Homo sapiens: one gene and its partner. The protein of the gene in region 2 interacts with the protein of the main gene of each other region in a pairwise test. Each region holds a gene or a part of one and is shown on either strand. Other genes may lie near its edges. The genes, in order: MYOM2 and JMJD1C.

The links.
Region 1: the proteins of JMJD1C (region 2) and MYOM2 interact in a two-hybrid assay, tested with the Homo sapiens proteins (one large-scale study listed by BioGRID and IntAct).

The regions. Positions count from the first base shown.
Region 1 is NC_000008.11:2,051,348-2,055,172, reverse strand, and holds part of MYOM2 (myomesin-2), read right to left. Parts: intron 3,016-3,825; coding exon 2,860-3,015; intron 1-2,859. UniProt on the Homo sapiens protein: Major component of the vertebrate myofibrillar M band. Binds myosin, titin, and light meromyosin. This binding is dose dependent.
Region 2 is NC_000010.11:63,455,899-63,459,723, reverse strand, and holds part of JMJD1C (probable JmjC domain-containing histone demethylation protein 2C), read left to right. Parts: intron 1-1,011; exon of another isoform or gene 1,012-3,825. UniProt on the Homo sapiens protein: Probable histone demethylase that specifically demethylates 'Lys-9' of histone H3, thereby playing a central role in histone code. Demethylation of Lys residue generates formaldehyde and succinate.

The DNA of each region.
Region 1 (3,825 bases), on a different chromosome or scaffold from region 2:
TATCCAGGTACTTGGTTCCCCCAGTATCCAGGTACTTGGTTACCCCAGTATCCAGGTACTTGGTTACCCCAGTATCCAGGTACTTCGTTCCCCCAGTATCCAGGTACTTCGTTCCCCCAGTATCCAGGTACTTGGTTCCCCAGTATCCAGGTACTTGGTTCCCCAGTATCCAGGTACTTCGTCCCCCCAGTATCCAGGTACTTGGTTCCCCCAGTATCCAGGTACTTCGTTCCCCCATTATCCAGGTACTTGGTTCCCCAGTATCCAGGTACTTGGTTCCCCAGTATCCAGGTGCCAGGTGCCAGGAGGAGTTCTAGGAATATGTGTTCAAGAAATGAACGATGGCGTCAGATGTCCTGCAGGGAACAAGCCTTCTTACAGGGGAGTGAATCCCACCAAATTGCAGGGATCGAGAAGACAAAGCTTGGTCTGCGCCACGCAGCACTGTGATGAGTTTAAAGGTTCAGATGTCCTCTCTTGACACCGTTTACTTTTCTATGGGCTCTTTATGTTTGAGTAACAAGAGCCTCAGCTTATTCTTAGGTCAATAGCACCACTATCCTCTAACCCTCCATGATTCAGAATAACTAATTGGTCTGGAATTCCTCCCACAGCCAACCCCAAGTCAGGACATTGAGGAAATATTTCTGCCGGCTGATGATCAGTTGACCGTCACTTCAGCCCACGTGTGCACAGTAACGTCATTTGTCATGCACTGATTGTAAATGACAAGCCCCGGGACAGGTGGCTTGCAAGATTCAGGGAGGCCCATTTTTCACTGGGACTGAAGGAAGATGTCAGAGGGACATTTCCAATGGGCCATATCTTCCAGAAGGATGTGTTGAGTGCCTTCAGAGCATCGGGGTCGTATCTTCCAGAAGGACGTGTTGAGTGCCTTCAGAGCGCCAATGTCTCTTCAGTATTTATTTGACACAGGGACATCAGCAGTAACTCACATCAGTGAGCCCACAATTTCATCTTTTGCAAAGGACCAACTTGTCCAGCACGCTAAACTAATATCCACGTTGGGAGGTCAGGGATAAATACATGCTTGTGATGATGCTTGCAGCCCGTGAGAGTGGTGAATTCTAATAAGGGCTGGAATCCATGGAGCTGCTCACATCACTCAGCACGGGGCTCACTCATCCCTCCTGGGCCCTTCTGCATGACGGTGATAGAGCAGGCTTCACAATAAATCTCAATTAGAACTTGCCCAACTCACTGAGATCCCCACGACTTATGTTTACCTTTAAAGGAGGAAAGAACTGATTTCAAAACGATCTTCCCCATGGAAGACATGCACATGGGTTAGGAGAATACAACACTCGGGGGCTGCTGAAGAAAATCTCATGGAGAGCATGAGCCGTGGGCTCCACACAAAGCTGAGAAAGTGCCTAGCCTTCGTCCCCCGTCTCTACTACGTCTAAGACAGACTGGCATTTAACGTGAGGATCAGAGGTGCCGTGAGAACATAACCCCTTCACCAGTCACTCAAATCCCTTCTTTGAGTCAGATTTGGTATTGCAAGAGCATAGACCAATGTGTTTTAGGACAATTTCCAGCAGCCAAGGCTGTCTTGAAAGTCATTGCTGCCAAAACCATATGAATCACAGTAAGCCACTCACTGTTACCATTTTACCAGCAGGGAAATTGAGCGATAGGAAGTTTATGCAATATGTTCAAGTTCACATCAATGTTTAAATGATAAAAATAAAATGATAAGCTCAAGTATTCTATTGTAGCCCCCAAAACCTAAATATAGGTAGAAGAACCCTTTAATCCAATACATAAAAATCTGGATTGTGTTAACATCTACATTTCAAAGAGATTCTTTCACAAAAGAAATCTTCACTTTACACTAGAATTCATTTACATGGCAAAATTATCCTATGACATTTAAAAAAATTCAATTTTTTAAAAATAAATGTTAACCTTCGTTAACCTTCTTGGCTATACATTGTTTATATTCAACAGATGACTTCATCTTTCTGAAACTTTCAAAATGAAAGATGTTTACTCAAATCTTATTTTTCCTTCAGGTTTTAAATGCTTTGAAGATATAGAGAAAATTCCCAGAAGTAGCAGGGGGAGATGAGGGAAAAAATACAGCAGGTATAAAACAAGGCACCCGCGAACGTTTAACTGTTCACTTTGTCCTTAAAAGATCAAAGCCATATCACCACCTGTTTCTCCGTCATCTGGAAATAATTTTAAGACTGGCATTTTTATTAATCCATCCCATTCCCATGACATTTCACCCCACGAGCTGCCTCTGTTGAAATGTAAAGCATGACAATTTATAGAATCCCTTCCCAACTCTTTAGTTTCCACACGACAACTGTTTAAAACCCTGGCTCCCGCTTAGGAAGATGACCTTGCTTGAATGTGCACCCCTCCACGGCTGTTCCTGCATAGCTACAGAGGTTGCAAGTGGAAATTCAGAATTACTCTCACACTGCTAGGTCTTGATGTTTTCATGTGTGCTTATCCTGCTCTGTCTGGAAAGGGACTGAGCTTGGCTTGGAAGCCACGGACCCTGGAGCTCTAAGCCCAGCTGGGACATGCGTGAGACATGGAATCCTGGGCAGTGGCGTGAGCGCTCTGAACAGCAACGCTCTCTTCTGCAAAATGGTGGGAAGCTGGTGCCCAGTAGTTTTCTTGTTCAGATTAATTGAGATAATGATGGTAAAGAGAAGCAGGTGATTGGGAAACAGCAGCATTCTCCCTCTCACCCCAGGCATGGCCTGTGTTCCTTGATCTTCCCTCTCAGCTAAGGTCGCTCTTCCCTCCTCACCCCACTGTCCCTCCACTGTGACCCCACGCAGGGCACAAGTGGAGTCAGGGAAGCCATGTGCTCACCTGCTTCTGTTCTCCTGCTCCTCATCTTCCTGCGTGCTCACTCGCTTCGCACAGACCCTGCAGATGGTTCCTCCCAGGGACGTCTGGCTGGAGGCTCTCTGTGAAGACGACCGCTGACTCAAGGACTTCTGGGAAGATGCCTGGGTGGAAGCTCGCCTTCAGGAACATGGACACGATTAGGAGATGCATGCTCAGGCACAGTATGGAAATTTATCCTGACACACATCACTTTCTCTCTACACACCCCAAACCACTGGTATATGCAGAGCACACACAAACACACACATGCACAGGCATATGAGAGGCATGCACCTACACACATATATGCACACATGCACACACATGCATGCATATGCACATACAATACATGCGTACACATGTGTATGCAAATAAATGCATAAATGCAAGGACACGCCTTCCCACAAGCACATGCACATGCATACACACAGCGCGTGCACACATAAACAAACCTACACAAGTGTACACACACTTGCACACAGGCAAACCCAAGCCTGTGTCCCTGTGTGCCCACACCCATACCCCGCACATGCCCGCCCTGGGGTGCTTTCTCCCTGAGCTCACTGTGGCTGGTGCCACCTCCCTTCAGAGCCAGCCAGTGCCGGCCACAGTCTTTCTGGCTCCACGCCAGGATTATATATATCTTGAGGGATTTGAGACACCCCAAGGCTGCTGGGAGGGGCTGCAAATGTTTGGCTTTGTTTGGCACAAGGGATGGCAACTAAATAAAAGTACCCTAAGCGTTTCTAAACATAGGGTGTGGGTGACATGAGGCAGGCACCTGGGCTGCAGAACGCCTGCCCGCGGTCCCTCCCTCCCTTCACCACAGCCTTCCAATCAGCCCATTAAGATTGCAGATTTGCTGCTACACAAACAGTGTCCATGGGGGCGTGAGCTGCCATCCTGTATGAGGCCATCCCCGAGAAGCTTCCGGAAGATGCAGGTGCA
Region 2 (3,825 bases):
TGAAAGCAGCATTTTCTTGAAACTTTTAAATTTGTTATTTGGTGTTCAGACGTTAGAGTCTTGTCATACTGATTTTTGTATAACTCTGATGATTTTCAAAAAGGGTGATATGTTCTGCTTTTATGTGTCCAGGTGTATCCCAAAGCTTTGTAAAAATTAATTTGTTTTAATGTGTATGAAGTATAAATATCTAACTTTCTAAATATTTACAAATAAGAAATAGCATTGAGTTTTTATATTAGGAAGTGTGCCATAACTCCTCACAGTTAAATAGAAATTTCAGGAGAGATACATCGTTAATATTTCAGAAATTAGCAAGAGAGGGCAAGCTTGGCTTTTTAGGTCACATATATCATAAACCCTAGTTTATACTCTGTCAGTGTTGGTCAGATAAATAACTGTAGGTCCACTATTCTTTATCTGCAATTCTGAAATTCAAATAGCTGTAGCAACTACATTTTTTAATGATTCATTTGGAAGCAAAACCTGATTGACTAAACTCATTTTTTAAGTAGAGCTTAATAGGAATTGAGTATTTCTTATAGGAGAAATATTAATGTGCTCCACTTTTAGGGTTCTGTTCTAAATCCTTCAGAGATGTTACATGTTGCCTAGGAACTGTGCTATATTACCATAGTTAACTACCATAACGTAAGGACTTGTACTATATTACCATAATCAACTACCGTAATGTATGCTATAGGCCAAGCGCGGTGGCTCACATCTGTAATCTCAGCACTTTGGGAGGCCAAGGCAGGGAGATCACTTGAGCTCAGGAGTTCAAGACCAGCCTGGGCAACATGGTGAAATCCTGTCTACTGAAAATACAAAAAGTAGCCAGGCGTGGTGGTGTGTGCCTGTGGTCCCAGCTCCTTTGGGTACTGAGGTGGGAGGATGGCTTGAGCCTGAGAGGTCAAGGCTGCATTGAGCCATGATCATGCCACTGCACTCTAGCCTGGGTGACAAAGTGAGACTGTTCCTCAAAAAAAAAATAAATAAATAAAAAAAAAGCTATATTTAACTTTATAAAAATCCAATAAACTTTTAATACCAAAATATGTTGAAAGAGTTTGGATGAGGGATTGTTATTTGAATACTAATACGATTTTTGGTGGTGTAGATTTAATGGCAACAAATACTGCTAATTTTATTTGTTAGGAGATTTGATAGTGATCATATGTCTGCCTAATTTCAGATAGTTTTTCCAGTGTGGATTTTAGCAGACTTTTTTTTTTTTTTAAAGACAGGGTCTCGCTCTGTTGCCCAGGCGGAGTACAGTGGCATAATTACAGGTCATGGCAGTCACTTTCTGGGTTCAAGAGATCCTCCCACCTCAGCCCTACAAGTAGCTGGTACTACAGGAATGAGCCACCATGCCTGGCTAATTTTTTTTTACTCTTTGTAGAGATGGAGTCTGACTGTGTTGCCCAGGCTGGTCTCAAACATCTGGGCTCAAGCAATCCTCCTGCCTTCAGACTCCCAAAGTGTTGGGATTAGAGGTGTGAGCCATGGCATCCAGCTTCACACTTTTATTAGATATAAAATTCTTAATCTGACAAAGAAAGATTTAGGGATTACGTACTTTTAGTTTTACAACTGGTCTTTACTAAATTGTTAATGTTGAAACATTGTCTGAAATTATCGAATTGGATAAAATCCCTTTGTGTAGAATTTATATTTTATATTCTAGCTAGTTTACGAAATTATTATCTTAAACCCATTGATGAAAATGTTGATTTATCTTATATTGTAGAACTATTGATTTAATTATAGAATACATGGCTAAGTAGAAAAACAGCAGCTCACAATCTGTTTACTGTTTTGTCTGGCAAAACAAAACTATGCATACTGCTGACTTACGAAAAACTGAAAAGAGTTTTTGAAATCACACAATCAGTAAGTGTCAGGGCAGGAATTTGAATGCAGATTTCTGATTTCAAATCTGTTATCTCTGTACTCTGCCATATTGCTTCTGCCAATGGTTTGTGATTCACAGACTCTCAAAGTAAAAACCCGAAATTCCCTTTAACTGTAATGTTATATATTCTTTCTGAGCCCTTTCTCTTTCTTCATTTCTATAGCCCTATGGTTTAAGTCCTCTTGGACTTTTATTTCTCCTTCCTTCCTGTCTGCAGTTCCTTTCATCTTCTTAATTTGGTATTTCAAATTCAGTCCTTTGCTTACTGTTTGTTGTTGTTGTTTTAATCTTGTTATTTCCTTTGTAGAATTTACTTGTACTATGTTGCATAATTACTCACAAATCTGCAATTAAAGTTTGGCCTTTTTTCAGTTTGATCCACCGTCTCTACTGTTTGGAAGCTTTACATGAATGTCCCGTGTGTGGGTTTGAAATAGTGTTTAAAGTATAATTTATTATCTTCATGTGAAACCAGCTGCCATTTTGAGATTTAATTTGAAGTTTCACCTGGGCTTGAAAACACCTTCATCTTAAATGTTTTTCCACCTTGAACGTTGGCATTAACTTAGTTCTGCAGATTTCTTCCTTTAAATTGGAACCTGCTTTCCCGTCTCCATTCTTTTCAATTTGTACTACCACTTGCTCAAAACCTTCCTTACTTGATTTATTTGGGTTATATCTATTGATACTTACTGTATTAAAAACTAAGCTGAAATTTTTAAAACACAAGAGCAGTTTTTCATAAGTCAGCACTATGCAGACATAGTTTTGTTTTACCAGACAAAACACAAGTAGTCTGCTGCTCTGAACACTGATGAAAGAATGAATGGAAAAGGCAAATAATGTCTTAGTAGTATTTTGAGAAGTTTTTATCTTACTAATCCCTTGAATAGATTTTGTTGCCCTGGAAACATTTGGTGAAGGTATCTGTTCATCTAATTCTCTTTAGTAGAATTATTTACATTAGTATCACTAAATAGTTAAATTTTAAGTTGAATTTGGCTTCTTCATTATTTCAGGTTTCTTCCAGTATTTTCTGTGTGGCTATATTGCTTATGAAAATTATGTATTTTGAACGTAGAAGGTTGCATGTAACATGCCAGAAAATGTTAACATGGCAGTAGGAATAGTCAGCATTCCTAGAATAGATTTCAGATTTTTTCAAAGCTAGAAGAGGTCTGTGTGACTAATTCATTTCTTGTGAAAGACTGACACTTAGGAGCTGAAACATCTGATCCATCTGTTAAAGTTAGGAGTTTTAAGATTCAAAAATCTTTAGGCTCAGAGGAATATCAAAGAAGGAAGCAGTATGTTAATGTTTGGTTAAAATTATGTGTTATTTAATATAAAATGACTGTATATTTAACAGAATTTATTTCCTCTCTATATTGTGATTCTATAGATGGAATCTTGATGCAATACAGGACTAGGAGAAATATTTGTATAAGAATTTAAAGTTGATGAACTATTCCAATGTGTTGAATAACATTATACTATTATTTGGTCTATGTTCTTTTTCTTCTTTAAAATCACATTGATAAAACTATGTAGAGCCTATTTTAGAGCGTTTCCACTGTTCGCTAGAACATTTTATTGCCATAATTTTCAAAATCTCTGATCATATTTTAATACCAAAGTGAATCATTTTGAGGGAAACCATTTTACTTTACATTGTTCATGTGAATTAAGAGAGTAAGTTGTGAATATGAATATAGACTATATGTATTTCACCTTTCCGTAACGGTTTTGAACTATACAAACATATACACATAGTTATATAATAGAAATAATTATTAAGACCCTTTGAACTACTAAGTATAACAAGGAAAAAAGCAAATATGCTTACAGTTAATATAATATTGCATTAAATTTGCCTCGATTTTCTCAGTCTTAAGAGCAAAATAAGA